Linked DNA regions of Homo sapiens: region 1 is linked to region 2. Evidence: fine-mapped expression QTL. A gene starts in region 2. The other region holds a variant in brackets. All regions are shown on one strand. Distances are from middle to middle.

Region 1 (8,324 bases), 21 kb after region 2:
TCAGCAGCCCCACCCTGGAGGTATCCTCCCTTCCTGTGCTCTGCTTCTTCTCAGGGCCCTCTGCTCTCGGAGGCAGCAGGAAGTTAGAGACAAAGGGCCGGAGGGAGCATCTGGGTAGAGGCCCAGCTCTTTGCCGCTTTACCGCGCATCCTCGTGCAAGCCCCTTGGCCTCCATAGGCCTGCTTCTCCTTATGGAAAAGGAGACAGCTGAGCTGGGGGGTCTCTAGGGCTCTCCCAGCTCTCATATTCTGGGCTTTACCCTCTCTCTCCTCCCTGGGGACCAGGGCCTGGCTCAGCCAGGTGCAGGATTAACAGACGTGTGCTGAGGACAGCAGCAACGGAAGCTGAGTTCTCTTCCAGGGCCCTTTGGGATAGAATGACTTCCTCCAGAGGGACTGGCCTGGAAGCCCAGGCCCCAGAGGTCCTCCCACCAAGGCCTCCCACGTGACCCAGTGCAGGGTTAGGCTGCCCTTCTCAACATTCTCTCCCCTTCTCAGCCCGACCAAGGAGCTGAACCGCAAGCTGTCCTCAGATGAGATGTACCTGCTGGACTCTGGGGGGCAGTACTGGTATGTACCCCGACCTCACCCTAGCCTGGATGTCTCTGCTCAGACCTCCTGAGCCTGCCAAGAGTCAGCCAAAGCTTTCCCTTCCTGGGCCACGGATTCTTCGTCTGAAAAAGGAGAGATCTGGAATGAGCCCCGAACATCCTACCCATTTTCACACATGGGGGTCCCTGCACAGTGGGAAATACACAGAGGCTGGAATAGTGGCAGGACCCAGGCAGCACCTCTGTGGGAATTAGGAAAAGACTCCCTTTGCTTAAGTTGCTGTTTTTTGTGGGTTGTTTGTTTGTTTGTTTCTTGACAGAGTCTCACTCTGTCGCCCAGGTTTGGAGTGCAGTGGCGCGATCTTGGCTCACTGCAACCTCTGCATCCCGGGTTCAAGTGATTCTCCTGCCTCAGCCTCCCAAGTAGCTTGGATTACAGGTGTCCACCACCATGCCCAGCTATATATATATATATATATATATATATACACACACACACACATATATATATACACACACATATATATACACACACATACACACACACACACACACATATATATATATGTATGTATTAGTAGAGATGGAGTTTCACCATGTTGGCCAGGCTGTTCTCAAACTCCTGACCTCAGGTGATCCACCTGCCCCAGCCTCCCAAAGTGCTGGGATTACAGACATGAGCCACCATGCCCAGCCTCAAGTAAAATGTTTTCTAAGTCCACGTATTATTACACAGTCTGAGCAACTATACTCAATGTCCCTGCCTGGCCACACAAACACATATACCCTACTCTCATCCACTAGTGCACACCCTGGACACCCCCGCACCACCAACGTCATGCAGACTCCTCAGCCCCCTCTTCCCCATGGCACTGTTCAGGGTGGAGGTGGGGGCAGATGAGAGAAGCAACCCTTTTGATGGGCTACCTTTGTACAGTGTACAACCTGAATGCTCAGACATGACAGCCGTGCAGAATAGACTAACCTGGCCAGGCGTGGTGGCTCACACCTGTAATCCCAGCACTTTGGGAGGCCGAGGCGGGCAGATCACCTGAGGTCAGGAGCTTGAGACCAGCCTGGGCAACATGGTGAAACCCCATCTCTACTAAAAATACAAAAATTTTCCGGGTGTGGTGGAGCATGCTTCCCAAGGGAAACTGAGGCAGGAGAATCGCTTGAACCCGGGAGGCGGAGGTTGCAGTGAGCCGAGATCGTGACACTGCACTCCAGTCTGAGCAATAAGAGCAAGACTATAAAAGGAAGAAAGAAAGAAAGAAAGAAAGAAAGAAAGAAAGAAAGAAAGAAAGAAAGAAAGAAAGAAAGAGGGAGAGAGAGAAAGAGAGAGAGAGAGAGAGAGAGAAAGAAAGAAAGAAAGAAAGAAAGAAAGAAAGAAAGAAAGAAAGAAAGAAAGAAAGAAAGAAAGAAAAAGAATAGGCTAACCCCATTCCTTCCAAACGTGTGACTGATCATTCACACCAGAGTTGAGCTGAGCTGAGCTGACCTGAAAGATTTTCCCTTCTCATTGAGGAAGGAAGTGTGGGAAGCGTGGGGTGGGACAAAAGAAGGGCCGTACTGAACTGATGGAGGAGCAAGGAGTCCTGTGGAAATGGCGAATGTGCTAACGACAGAGGCTCTTTGCTTGTTCTTAGCACAGCTCTAGGGGATCCAGAGTAGCAGGCGCTCAGCTTAGCAGCCTTTGCTGGTCAGGAGTTCGATGCTGTGTGTACTTGAGATGGCCAATGAGCAAAGGGGAAGTGAATTTGTGGGGGCGTTGCTGGAATGGGGTGTGCTCAGAGTAGGGTGAGGCCGGGGAAATAGTCACCTCACTTCCTCTTCTTTCCTTCTGAAGAAGAAGGTCACCACACCCCATGACCCAAGGAGAAGCCCCAGGGCCCTGGGACCATTTCTCCCCTCTCCCTCACCAAGGCATGATCACAGGGGCCATCTGTGGCAACTGCTGCAGCTGGGAGTTGGGAGTCAGACCTTGGGACTGAGGCTTCACCTAACTGGAACTCAGCAAGTCACTGGGTCAGATCCGTGTTTGCCATGGAGAGGACTGTGTGGAGAGGCAGTGCTTGCTCTAGGCCTGGCTTCACTGAGGTTCAGAGAGGGAAACAGCCGCATGGCCTCAATGGCCTCATCTGTGAACTGGGGATAATGAGGCCTCTTCTACCATTCTTCCCAGGGAGCAGCAAAAGTGTCCTATAAATGGTCGACAACTATCTGAATATGAGAGTGTTATGATAATATAATCTCTCTGGACCTCAGTTTCCCCAGCTGTAAAAAGGGGACATTCCCCTTTCTGCCTCCCAGGAAGCCTGGAAGAAGCCTTGCTTTCATAACCAGCTGGACCCAAGGAAACCCAGACCTACAGAACAGCCAAAATGAGTGGGATGGGGGAGGAGTGTGTAGGGTGGGGAGTCACACTTGTCAGACAACTTAGTAACTTTTAACTTGATAGGTTTGCAGAGGCCTTTCACACATAGGTGCTGAAGAGGGGATTTTGATTATGGTAGCTGTCTTCTTCCTTTCGCCGTCCACCCATCCCATCCCAGCCCTGCCACTTGTGGAAAGCACACAGAAAGCACATGGCCCCAGTCCCTAGCCCCAGGCATTTGGCATGTTGGTTTTCCTTCTCCATAGGGACGGGACCACAGACATCACCAGAACAGTCCACTGGGGCACCCCCTCTGCCTTCCAGAAGGTAAGCATGGGCCCAGATTTCCCCTCACCACCTTCCCCCAAGGGGGCACCCAAGCAGTCAAGATCCCTTCCATTTCAGAGGCTAAAACTGAAGCTCAGAGAGGTTAAGTAGTTTGCCCAAGGTGACACCACTGGTGCCGGAAAACCCAGTGCTCCCTGCTGCTTCCCCGGGGATATTTCAGGCCACTGACAAGGCCTCAGCCCAAGCTGAGCCTCATCCTATTCTGGTAAATCAGTGCACAAATATTTTTTTGTTGTTGCCTGTGTGCCTGGCCCTGTACTCAGCAGAAAGGAGAAAGAAAGGCATCCCAAGTGGAGGAAAACGGCACAAGTGAAGCCTCCGCGGTGGAAAGGAGCCAGAGGTGTTCAGGAAACA[T/G]CGAGGGCTGGCCAGCTGGGGCAGAGGCGAGGGCATTGTCTCTGTGCACCAGAGGGCCCTGGGGGTGGAGCAGCGAGCTGCCGTCATGCTGCATGCAGCAGGCCGACTATGGGGCAGACATTGTGCTGGAAACACAGAGAGGGGAACAAAATGCTGTCCAGGTCTCCAGGAGCTCACAGTTTAGCGGCGGAGTCTGCTGCCTCTGGCTGTCCTGCCCAAAGTGACAAGCCTGTGAACCTGTGTGGTGATGGAGATTGACCACATCGCCTCTGGAAGTGACCAGAAGAGGCCACTGTCAGGCCACCTCCCTCCGCTGACAGAGGAAGGCTAAGCTGCCAAGTCAGCAAACCTCAACCCTCATGAAAGGCCTTAAGAAAACTCAGCAGCCGTCACAACCACAGGAATGAGTGTGCTAAACTTCCGTGAAGCATGCACGCTGTTGGCAGCACCTTCTGTACATTAGTCTGCCTGCCTCTCCCAACAACCTTAGGAGCTAGGTCCTGTTATCTTCCCATCGCAGATAAGGAAACTGAGGCACACAGCAGTTAAAGTCGCCTGCCCAAGGTCTCAGAGTGAGTGGCTAAGTCAGGATTCAGCCCAGGGAGTCACAGCCTCGGTTCACCGCCACCAAGTGTCTCCTGCAGATATTGTAATGATCCTCATAGACCAGCCAGAGGGAAGCACGTGATGGAGCCCCAGCTTTGGGAAGGCCCTCCTCAGCCTCTGCTGGCCATCTTCCAGAACCCGGGCAGCCACACATAACGATGAGACTCCCCCCACCCTGCCTACACACACCCAGGCCTGGGCCCTGCACCGTGTATCCATAGGCCAAGCAGCTGGATACTCCTCTGGCTCCTCCTCCCGTCCTCCATATCACCTCTTCCTCTCCCCATCAGGAGGCATACACCCGTGTGCTGATAGGAAATATTGACCTGTCCAGGCTCATCTTTCCCGCTGCTACATCAGGTGGGTTTCAGAAACCAGTCTGGACACAGCCTCAGGCCCTGATTTCACAGGACTCAGACCATCACCCTGGGAGGCTGGTGGGGCAAGGATTTTGTCATCATCCCATCCCTTATGTAGATGAGAAAATCCAGCCTAGAGAGAGAAAGTGACTTGCCCAAGGTCACACAGAAGGTTAGCGGGAGATCCAGGCCTTGAACCTGAGTTTCCTGCCTCTTAATCTAACACTGTTGCTCAGAGGTGGGAGAGATCAGTGGGCCACAGCAATTATGGGAGGATTCTTAGAGGAATTAGGTGTCAAAGTGCAAAGCCCTGACAGATGGGGAGAAATTACAGTAGAGGCATCAATTCAGGTAATGGATACAATGTATGGTAAGCTGGAGATAGTGATGGGCTGGTCTGGCGAGGGAACCACTAACTCCATCCATCAGCCCTCCTCCATCCCAACCCAACATCATTGCATCAGTGCATGCTTAGCGGCCTCTCAGGGGCCCCTCTTCTTAGGCACCACTCTGATAGTGAAGCAAGAAGGGGCAAGGTGGACAGTCTTCGGTAAAGCCATCTGACTGGGGTCAATCTCTCTTCCCTTCCAGGGCGAATGGTGGAGGCCTTTGCCCGCAGAGCCTTGTGGGATGCTGGTCTCAATTATGGTCATGGGACAGGCCACGGCATTGGCAACTTCCTGTGTGTGCATGAGTGTAGGTGTCTCCTCAGCACTCCCCAGGCCACCCCCCTTTTATTATACCCTCTATGAAGGTAGAGAATTTCACAGGTATGGAAATGACAAAGACCCACAAAGATGCCATGATCTACCCAAGGTTACCCAGCTCCACAGGGTAAGTGAGGAATGCCAGCAGCAGGCCAGTCCTGCTGGCTGCTTGGCATTCAAGAGGGCACCAGAAAGAGGGTCAAGCCCTAGTGACTAACTTATATAGACCCCAGAGAAATAAAAGCCAGAGCCAGCTGCATGTGGTGACTCACACCCATAGTCCCACTGCTTTGGGAGGCCAAGGTGGGAGGATCACTTGAGGCCAGGAGTTTGAGATCAGCCTGGGAAACACAGCAAGACCCCGTCTCTACAAAAGAAATGTTTTAAGTATCCAGGTATGGTGGCATGTGCCTGTAGTCCTGGCTACTCGGGAGGCTGAGGTGGGAGGATCCCAGGAGGTCAAGGCTGCAGTGAGCCATGATGGCGCCACTGCACTCCAGCCTGGGCAACACAGCAAGACCCCTCTCAATACCTAAATAAATAATAAAAGCCAGAGCCAATCTGGTGTGTGCCAGGCCCAGGCAGACAATGATGTGATGGACCTGTGCTCATAGAGATGCTCTGGGATCCTCACTTATCTGCTCTTCCTCGGAAGCTGCTCACTTCCAAGCTGGTGAGTATAGGAGAACTGATACCATGTTTATGTCTTCCTTTCTAGGGCCAGTGGGATTCCAGTCCAACAACATCGCTATGGCCAAGGGCATGTTCACTTCCATTGGTATGGCCCTCAGGCCCCTCTACCTCACCACCCCATCCCAGAGCAGGACTAGCCCAGGACTGCAGTCTAGAGTGTACCAGACTTCAGAGGAGCACAGCAGGCACTAGTACAGCTCGGGACTCACCTCCCCATTCCCACCGCTACGCCCAGCCCCAAATGGCTTGTCCCACCCTAATTCCAGCTCCCCTCAGCCCAGACCCTCTTTTTGCTCTTGGGAGTTGTTTCCCAGCTGTATATTCAGACGAGATCAGGTGCGTTCAGGGTGGTATGGCCGTAGACCCAGCTGTATATTCAGACTCTGGAGTTGCCAAATGCTGGAGTAACAGGACAGTGGCATCCAGGGAGATGGGAGTACCTTCAGGACCCAAGTGGGTTTTTAGGGCTTCCCTGCTGGGCTACAGGGAAGAGAGAGTGAGTCAGAGATGCCCCTGTGGGGGATCTGAGGCCTGACAGGGATGAGTTGCCTCTGCTTAGCCAACAAACATCTAACCAGTTGTGGGGCTGCCAGAGTCAACAGCCAGGGGACAGCCAGACAGCCAGTCCCTCCAGCCACTCATCAGTAGGTACAGGAAGCCTGGGCTTGGGCCCTCTCCCAGCTTAATGCCACCAGCATCTCTGTGTCTCCCAGAACCTGGTTACTATAAGGATGGAGAATTTGGGATCCGTCTCGAAGATGTGGCTCTCGTGGTAGAAGCAAAGACCAAGGTAAACTGCCACCAGGATGGGCTGGAGGTGTGGGCAGCATGTCAGTGACTTTGGGCTGCATGGGAGGAAAGTGGGGAGGAAGATCAAAGGAGAAGGGCATTTAGTGTGCAGGCATGAATTTATCTGGAGTCTTCCTTAGGAATTCCATAAGTCAGACTTTTCAAACTCGCTTGCACATTTGAATCACCCAGAGAGCTTTCTGGTGCTTTAAATGCCCATGCCCAGGCCCCATTCCAGACCAAGTGAATCAGTATCCCTGCCCTATATCATTGGTTCTCAATGCACATAATAATCGCCAGGGGAGCTTGTTAGAAATAAAGATTCTGTATAATAGCAGCCAACAAGATAAAATACCTAGATGTAAACTTAAAAAGGCTTACATGGAGAAACTCTCTACTAAGGGACATAAAAAAGATTTAAGTAAATGGTGCTCTCTGGAGAGAAGCCTCAATATTATGAAGATATCATTACTCTCTAAATTAATCTATAAATTCAAGATAACCTCAATTCCAGTGCTAACTGGATACTTTTGTAACTTCACAAAATGATAGTAAAGTTTATTTGTAAAAATAAACATGCGAAGATAGCTAGGAAAATTCTGAAAAAGAAGAGCAGGGCCAGGTGCAGTGCCTCATGCCTGTAATCCCAGCACTCTGGGAGGCCAAGGCAGGAGGATCGCTTGAGCTCAGGAGTTTGAGAGCAGCCTGGGCAACATGGCAAGACCCCATCTCAACAAAAAATACAAAAAAAAATTAGCTGCACATGGTGTCATGCACCTGCAGTCCCAGCTACTCGGGAGGCTGAAGTGGGAGGATGGTCTAAGCCTAGGGAGGTTGAGGCTGCAGTGAGCTGTGACCACGCCACTGCACTCTAGCCTCGGTAACAGAGCAAAACCCAATCTAAAAAAAAAGCAATAAGAAAAGCCAGTCCTCTCAAATTTGAACACAAACTACCATAACTAAAACAGTATGACACTGGAGATGAAATAGATAGCTGTAACAATGAAACAGAACAATCAGTCCAGAAGTAAACCCTCTTATTCCCATAAACAACATGGGAATTTAGTTTACAAGAAAGCTGATTTTGCAAAAAAGTAAGAAAAAAATGATTATTCAGCAAATGGACAGGGGGAACAAATGGCTAATCATTTGGGGGGATTAAACTGAATAACCTCCAAAATAAAATTCCAGATGGACCAAAGTTTTAAGGTGAGCAATGAGACCACAAAAGATGTAGAGGAAAACCTATATCAATTCATTTATAATCTCAGGGTGGAAAAGAGTCTTTCTGTGCAAGACCAGAAGCCATGAAGGAAAAGATTAATAACTCTGACTAAATAGAAAATGGAAACAATGTTTATGGAAACAATGCCATAAACAAAGCCAAGAGATGTGTGACAAATATCTCTTGGCTTTGTTTATGGCATTGTGAGAGGGTGAGTTTTCTTATTTTACCATGAGCTTTTTACAAATCCGTAAGACAAAAATAGACAAAACAGGAAAAAATAGGGCAAAGGACATGAAAAGGCAATTCACTAAAA
Region 2 (8,324 bases):
TCAGGGTTTGAAAACAGAAGCTCCCATAAAATGTTATGGGAGTCTCCAAGATGAATTTGAGGTGATGAGGGCTTGGTAGACAAGATGAATTTTGAGCTGGACTTTGATGGATGGAGAGAATGTGGACAAGAAGAGATGAATAATGTTAGAGAGGAAGACCTTGGCCACTAAGCTGAAGAGATTGAATTCTGCCCTGAGGGCAGTGGGAGCCATGGAGGATCTTCAGATTGGGGTGACTGTGAGGTCCAAGGGACAGAGCATGGGCTTTTAAGTTCCCCAGACCCAGGTTTGAGTCCCAGCTCTGCCACAGGTCAGCTTGGACCTGGGCAAAGCCACTTTTTTTCTCCAAGCCTGTCTTCTCTTCTGCTTCTGAGAGCCCTGCCTATCTCCCAGCATGAGATGCTGGAACCTGATGGGAGGGTATAACGGGAATTCGGAAGCAGCAATCACATGCTGTGCCCACAAGGCCAAGAGTCCCCAGTCCCTCAGCCTGTGAGGTCACATGAAGAGTTAGATTGGGCATGTGCTAGCTCAAAAGCCTCCTTCCCACCTGCAGAACTGCAGAACCTCAGGTATCATTTCATGATTTCATCCTCAGTAACTTGGGACATCCCCAGGGGATGCTCTGCAGTGCTCATAGCCCCCTTGGGTCTCTGACTTTCCTATTGCCACCGGCTATTCCAGTCCATGGCGCTGTCCACCTGTGCTTCCTCAGGCTGCTTTTCACATTATTGCCGCCAGTCTGCCCCTAGACTGCTGTCCTTCCCTGTGACCACCTCCTGCAATGCCATCTCTGCACCTCTACTGCCAAGATTCACTCCACCTCTCTGATTCCTGGCCTTCCTCCAGGTTCTACCCTTCCCCGGGGCTCCCACAGCAAAGCTGTTTGTATCCCTGGTGCTAGAGTTCCTTGCTTGCTCGTCACTTTATATGCATTTTCTCATTCACACTCATGACATTAGTTGTTATTGTGACCTCAGCTGCGATTCAGGACACCTAGTGGTTGTCACCTGGTGGGAGAACATGTAAGTCAGGAAGGTGTATTCTGATGGAAGTCAAGGAGGCATTGGTGCCCAGAGAGGGCAGGCTCAGGTTGGAAGCCTGGGGTGGCATGAGGGTGCAAAATAAGAGGCACAGACAGGAGGTACTCTAGAGAAGATCACCTCTGATTTCAGAATTTGGCCTTTAGGCTAGCTTTGGACCAAAAAGTAAAACAAGCAGAAGTCCACTGCCTGAGTAGGCCAGAGCGAGACTCCAGTGATGCATGCATCTTCCAAACAACTTTGATGCAAAGACTCGGCCATTCAACCCTCCCCACGTTGAATCATTTCTTTCCACTTCAAGCCTGTTGCCAACTTGGGTTGAAGTCTCTCAACTGATAAGAGTAAAGACAGTGGTTTCGAGATAGGGAGATAAGGAAGGAGCTGATGAAGGCAAGTGAAGTTATCTTTGCCACCAGGGCTAAGGCTGGGACCCAGAGGTATGAAACCAGAGGGCTGAGTATTATGTGGGGACCATCCCTGGGCAGAGTCCGGAAGATGGGGGTGGAATCCCCGTTTAGTTTGTTTGCTTCGGGGGTTGGCCCTTCAGCTCAGCTGATCTTTGCTCTAACAACTGCTATTTCAGCAGTGCTGGATGCCAGGGAGAGAAAGAACAAAGTACAGATGAGACTGGCTTTATTTAGTTCTAGTATGTGAATTAACAAACATTTGTAGAACATTTACTCTTGTCTCTGCGAGGCATGTTCTGAGAGCATCACCAACATTAGCCCATTGAATCCTCATAACAACCCTAAGAAGCTAGTACTATTATTATGCCAACTCACAGGTGAGGACACTGGGGACTCAGGGAGATAAAGTCACTTGCCCAAGATCACACAGCTAGTGGGTGCCAGAGCTGGGATTGAAACTCAGGCTGATTGGCTCCCAAGTCAGTGTTTCAAGGCTCAGTTCACTGACAGAAAGACAGGACCATGTTTGTCCTCAAAGGCTATCTTCAGGGGTCTTCCCCTGCAAAATCCCATCAGCTCTACCTGCTTGCTTGCCCTTCAGGATGGCTACTGCAGCAAACAGAGGAGGCAGGAGTCTTTGAGGGGGCATTTTCCAGTGCTCTGGTCTCTGGGAATAATTTCATTACCAGTCCTGGAAGGGGTGGGAGAGAGGAGCCTGGGGAAAAGGCTGCGGGAGCTTCAGCAGTTATTGAATGACAGCATTCTCATGTTCTCCTTGTCCCTGGTCTGTCCTCTGAGGCTGTGGGCTCCTGCCCTCTGCTTTTATTCCTGAGAATGAAGTTCACTGGGCCACCTCACTCATTTTGACTCTGCCCCTTCAGAGACTCCCATGAAGGTCCGTTTTCCCTCTTCAAAATGGCCTATTTTGTCATTCTTGAATGGATGGTTGAAAGTTGCTTTACACTTGATGTGGACATAAGCAGACTGTAAATCCATTAAAAATAGAAACAAAAGGAATGGTGGCCAGGCATGGTGACACGCACCTGTGGTCTCAGCTACTCAGAAGGCTGAGGCTGGAGAATCACTTGAGCCCGGGAGGCTGAGGTTGCAGTGAACCGAGAACATGCCACTGCACTCCACCCTGGGCAACAGAATAAGACCCTGTTTCAAAAATAAAAATAGAAACAAAAGGAATGGGCAGTTTGCCTCTGGGGCCCTCCAGGCTAGGTGAGCATCCATCCCCATTGGGTCTGTTTGTCTCTCTAAAGCATTCCTCTCTGGGAAATCACCTTCCTCGAACCCAAAGAGCAAGGGTTCTGTAGAGCATTTACTAGGAGCTGCCTTGAAGCTGCCCTCTGATTCAGCTGGGCGTGAAGACAAGGCAGGCCTCAGCTTCTCCATTTCCCTCATTGGGAGTTGTGTTGTTTACGAGTGACTCACACTTCAGGGTAACCAAATCCCTGTTCTAGAAGCTACAGCAGAAACAGCATTTCCAGTTCACCAAATTAGTCTTCTCAGAGCGCCCAAACTCCCCTTTCTGTGTCTTCTTCCCTATTCAGTGGCATCCCCCAAACCCTCCAGATAGGGGCATCTTTGGGCTTTCATTTCCTCCCAGGTGTGAGTGGCTCTAACAGCCTCGGTTCCCCAGAGTGCAGGTTCAGAAAATGCAGGGGAATGGGACTCCCCAGATCCCAAGGGAAGAGCTGGCATCACTTCTTCAGAGTGGGCACTCCTGGGGGGACTCATCCCAGCTCAAGAAAGTAACTCTCCAGTCACAACCAACTTTCCCAAGGGGTACAGTGGGACTTGCCAAGCACTACAAGAAGAGAGGACACTGGCTTTTCCAGTCAGCTTGGAGGAAGAGAGGGAGGAAAAAAGGAGGGGGAGGAAGAGCAAAAAGGAGGAGGAGGAGGAAATGGACAAGGAGGAAAAAAAAAAAAAGGAGGAGGATGAGGAGGGAAAAGGAGGAAGAAGAAGAGGAAGTGGAGGAGCCCAGAAAAGGAGGGGAAGGAGGAAAAAGGAGGAGGAGAAGGAAAACGAGGAGGAAGAAGAGGTGGGGAGGAAAAGGAGCAGCAGCAGGAGGCAAATCTCCATCCCCACAGCAAAAGCAGTGCTGGAGCCAGAGCCCAGAGTGTGGGAGCTAATGGGAATCAGCTTGCTGGAGGGAAGGGGACCGAATTAAGGAATGGCTGGGGCTCTGCCGCTGAGAGGGGGCTGGGAAAAGCAGGCTGATTGAGACCAGCTGTTGTGCCTCTGTCTCTGAGATCTTTGGACTCTGCCCAGGATAGCCTCACACCCTATCCTACACGACTAGGAACTTGCACAGTCCGCCTCGGGCAGCCCAAAGCTCCTCTGCCCACCCTGGCTCCCAGAGCCCTCCAAAACAAAAGACCAGAGAAGCACTCTCCACCCAGCAGCCAGACGCCTCCTTCTTGACGCCAGCCCCCACCCTCTGTCTGCTCGAGCCCAGGAAAGGCCTGAAGGAAGAGGCCGGGGAAAGAGCCCTCCCTCTCTCCCTTGTCCCTCCATCCACCCAGCGCCGGCATCTGGAGACCCTATGGCCCGGGCTCACTGGGGCTGCTGCCCCTGGCTGGTCCTCCTCTGTGGTATGTGCATCCTAGCTTCCACTGGAAGGCAGCTCTGACCTCTCCCCTCTGAGCTCAGAAAGGGTTGGAGTGAGGGTTGGGGCCCGAGTCTCTTTTTCTGTTGCTTCCTCTCTCTGACTTGAGGAAGAGACACCTCAGGGCCAGTGTTGGGGGCCCTCATAACTTGGATCGAGTCTGGTTTGGCACCTTTCCATTCCCCCCGTTATAGAAAAAAAATATTCTGACACTCGTTAAAACGGTAAGGAAAACTTAATTTAAGACTACCGCATTGCAATAGAGGAGAGAAATGGGGCTCAACTCTGATTACAGAAAAGACTTCCAGGGATCTGTAGCCAAGGAGCAGAGTGAGGGGGTCAGTGGATGGAAAAGTATTAAGAGGAGATAGCAAGGGTAGGGGGATTCTTGCTAAACCGACTGAACAGCATTCTTGCTGACGGCAGGCCAGAGTGATCAGATATCAAGGGTGTCTAAACTGACTTAGCAAGATTCTTGCTAAGACTGGGTGATGCAAGCCTGGCAAGGGCAGGACAGACACAGAAGGCCAAGGTCAAGGCCAAGTGGAGAAGAGGCTTTGGGGGAGCCTAACTAAACTTTGGTCAGGAAGAGAGTCTTTCCTCTTTGTCATTCCTGCGGCACCCTCTCTGTCCTCAACTAGGTGCCCAGCCCAGCGCTCCCACCCTAGCCTTCCTTTCTTTGTTGTCTGTCAGCAGGGCCTGATCAGTCACTCAATGTCCAGTTCCTGAGCACCTACCCAGTGCCAGGCCTTGTGCCAGGGACCACAGAGTCATTCAGCTGCAGAGCCTGCTCTTGGGAGCCACAGCCCTGGCCTCAGAGAACAGCATATTCTGGTGTCCAGAGAGACATAAGTTGGCTGTGTCCTCATTCTTATGTTAGCATATCAGTGCCAACATTTTGCCAGGGATCTGTTTCTACAGAAATGGGTGTTTGTTTTCTTAAATGAACAGTATGGGTCGCATCTGATCCTTGAGTTTATGAGACCAAGATAAAATCACACAGGACGTTCATGGTGTTGAACCCCAGCCACCCTCCTTGCATCTGTAGCTCAGCCCACTCGAAAGTGTGGCTGGGCGTGGTGGCTCATGCCTGTAATCCCAGCTCTTTGGGAGGCCATGGCAGGCGGATCACTTGAGGTCAGGAGTTCGAGACCAGCCTGGCCAACATGGTGAAACACTGTCTCTATTAAAATTACAAAAATTAGCCAGGCATGGTGGCGCACGCTTGTAATCCCAGTTCCTCAGGGGGGGCTGAGGCAGGAGAATCGCTTGAACTCAGGAGGCAGAGATTGCAGTGAGCCAAGATTGTGCCACTGCACTCCAGCCTGGGCAAAAGAAGGAGACTCCATCTCAAAAAAAAAAAAAATGCGGGCGCGGGGGGCGTTGGGCGCAGTGGCTCACGCCTGTGATCCCAACACTTTGGGAGGCCGGGGCGGGTGGATCACCTGAGGTCAGGAGTTCGAGACCAGCCTGGCCAATATAGTGAAACCCCCATCTCTACTAAAAATACAAAAATTAGCTGGGTGTGGTGGGTGCATGCCTGTAGTCCCAGCTACTTGGGAGGCTGAGGCAGGAGAATCGCTTGAACCCGGGAGGCGGAGGTTGCAGTGAGCTGAGATCGCCCCACTGCACTCCAGCCTGGGTGACAGAGAGACTCTGTCTCAAAAAAAAAAAAAAGGAGGGGGGGCGGGGGAGTGTAATGTCTCCCCACACTCAGGGCCCCATTACCATCTAGGGAAATCCCTCCCTAAAAGACAGGGGGGTTAGAGGCAAGGACTATCAGAGACCGCTTTGTCTAATTCAAGCCCCTCCTTTCCAGAGGTCCAGAGCCTGGAGAACTTAGTCCAGTGCCTGGCACACAGTAGGCGCTTAGGAGATGGTTGCTCAATGAATATTGGGGGGGGGTCACTCTCGAGTCACTCTAAATTGGGGGCAGAGCCCAAACTAGAAACTAGATCTCCATATATTCTGTCCCTTCTGTGGCATCACCTTTTTCAGGCCCACCTCTCATACTTGGCAGAGTGGGAGGACTGAAAGTGCGCTCACCTCTTTTGTATTAAGATGGCCTGGGTTCAAATCCCTGTTCTACCACTGACTCCTGGTGGCACAAGTTAGACAAGTTACCAAATCTATCTGGGCCTTGACTTCCTCCTCTGCAGAAAGTGAACAATAATTTCCACCTCATAGTGATGTCACAAATATCAAATGAGATACTGTAGATGAATTGCTGCGTTCAGTATCTGGCACATAATAGGGTGTCTTTAAATACTAATTAATCCATCTTTCCCCACCATGGCAGACTAGGATTTCTGTCTAATATATTGAAAATGAGCCTGGAATGATAGGCAAAGATTTGGACTGTAAGAAACAGTGCAAGCAGGCCTTGAATTGAAGTCAACCCAATGTATCATACAATTAGATTTATAAAAGGCTAAAATGAAGGTGGGGTGATTATTTAGCGTGATCTTCTAGAGCATTTCAAAGAAAATTTGATAACAAAAATTTAATTTACACACAACTTTTCTACTTCACTAAACCCTGAAAAGACCCAATTAGATTAGAAGAAAAATTGATTTAATGAGCACTAAAACCCATCCAAAAGTGGCAATCACTTGTCTATGAAACAGATTTCTTTGATTGTGACCCAGGGTGCTATCCAGTTCAGCCTGATTTCCTATGAAATGTGATTATTTTTATCCTCAAGTAGAGCTGGCCAGCTTCGTGCGTTTCAAAGGATGGAGGCCCCGTGGGGCGGGCTGAGAGGATACTCCTTCCCTCTCTAGGAACTAGCTGGTCCCCAAATGACCCTGGATTTTTCTCCCGGCTTCTAGCTTGTGCCTGGGGCCACACAAAGCCAGTGGACCTTGGAGGGCAGGATGTGAGAAACTGTTCCACCAACCCCCCTGTGAGTGCCCCCTGCCCCCCGCGCACGGCCCCCCTGGCCCCACGCACCCCCCCACCCCTGCCCCACGCACCCCTGCACCGCAGCACCCCCGCCCTGCTCTATCATCTTCTCTATCCCTCATTGGGTCAGTTGGTAGCCCCTCCTCCTACCAGGCTTTCTCCTGATTTCCGGACTCTTGGGCCCCTCCCCCCTCCACTCCCTCCCCTCCACATCAGTGCCCTCCCCTCCCTCCCATTCATTCCCCCAGCAGGTTATCTGCTTCCGTCCTGATCTGGGCCTGGGAAACCCCTCTAGGAGGAGGGAGGAGGGCAGGAGGCCCCTAACTGGCCTTTGGCTGAGGCCAGGCAGAGGAAAGAAAAGACAAATTCTAGAGTGACAGCAAAAAGAGAAGCACAGAAGGGAAGAGGGAGGAAGACAGAGGTTAGAAGAGCCAACGGAGGCCGAGCACGGTGGCTGACGCCTGTAATCCCAGCACTTTGGGAGACCGAGCCAGGTGGATCACCTGAGGTCAGGAGTTCGAGACCAGCCTGGGCAACATGGTGAAACCCCGTCTCTACTAAAAATAAAAAAATTAGCCAGGCATGGTGGCGGGTGCCTGTAATCCCCGCTACTCAGGAGGCTAAGGCAGAAGAATTGCTTGAACCCAGGAAGCAGAGGTTGCAGTGAGCCAAGATTGTGCCACTGCACTCCAGTCTGGGCGACAGAGCAAGACTCTGTCTCAAAAACAAAACAAAACAAAACCAAAACCAAAGAAGAGCCAACGGAAGGGCAAGAGAGGGAGGCCTAGGGTGTGCAGACGAGGAAAAGGCCCAGCAGAAGGGGCTTGGGTAGTCAGCTTCCTAGCTGGAGACCAGAGTGATTCTTTCTACAATCAGAGTAGGGCTAAGGGGTAGGCATGCCAGCAGCACTGTAAGCCATGGGAAAAACGCAGTACATCTGCTAGCAATATCAACTTTATGGGACCCCTGGGGCAGGCAGGTGGGTGGGCAAACCACATTACTTTTATATTAAAACAAACATGGATATATCGTGGAGTAGAAAGCAAAACAGCACAAACGGAAACATGCTTTTCGTTTTAAAGCTAAAATGACCTGTAAAGAAATAGAGAACTGGTCTGGAAAGGGTCTTTCTGGGCAATATCTCAAACTGCTGGGGGCATTCATTCACTCTCCTCTGCCATTTGGGACCAGTGGGTGGCAACCTGAAAAAGCCCTGCCAAGGGAAGGTTGCCAGATAAAATACAGGACACCCAGTTACATTTGAATTTTAGATAACAAATAAGAATTTAGTGCAAGTATGCCCCAAATTGTGCATGTTTTAATATAATACTTACATTAAAACATTACACA

Which allele goes with the higher level. Positions count from the first base shown, and alleles are read on the strand shown. Sizes are in standard deviations (SD) of each study's normalised expression.
As copies of T replace G in region 1, the expression in fibroblasts of the gene that starts at base 3,773 in region 2 goes down (small effect, 0.08 SD a copy in GTEx).

What was found. PIP is the estimated chance that this variant, and not a neighbour inherited with it, causes the effect.
Region 1: its variant is the best candidate, but not a certain one, in a credible set for the expression of XPNPEP2 in fibroblasts (GTEx, PIP 0.74).

What each region holds. Positions count from the first base shown.
Region 1 is chrX:129,755,987-129,764,310 of GRCh38, forward strand. XPNPEP2 (X-prolyl aminopeptidase 2) reads left to right here. Exons shown (of 21, transcript NM_003399.6): 14 at 498-569; 15 at 3,194-3,254; 16 at 4,526-4,595; 17 at 5,186-5,290; 18 at 6,020-6,079; 19 at 6,708-6,784. Among named protein-coding and RNA genes, the nearest start is that of SASH3, 20 kb to the right of the region's middle. RefSeq lists enhancers at 1-398, 3,992-4,041, 4,062-4,141. The variant T/G (reference allele first, on the strand shown) is at 3,630.
Region 2 is chrX:129,735,207-129,743,530 of GRCh38, forward strand. It overlaps XPNPEP2 (X-prolyl aminopeptidase 2), which reads left to right and starts at 3,773. Exons shown (of 21, transcript NM_003399.6): 1 at 3,773-4,056; 2 at 6,902-6,975. The coding sequence starts at 4,008. RefSeq lists an enhancer at 3,003-3,052.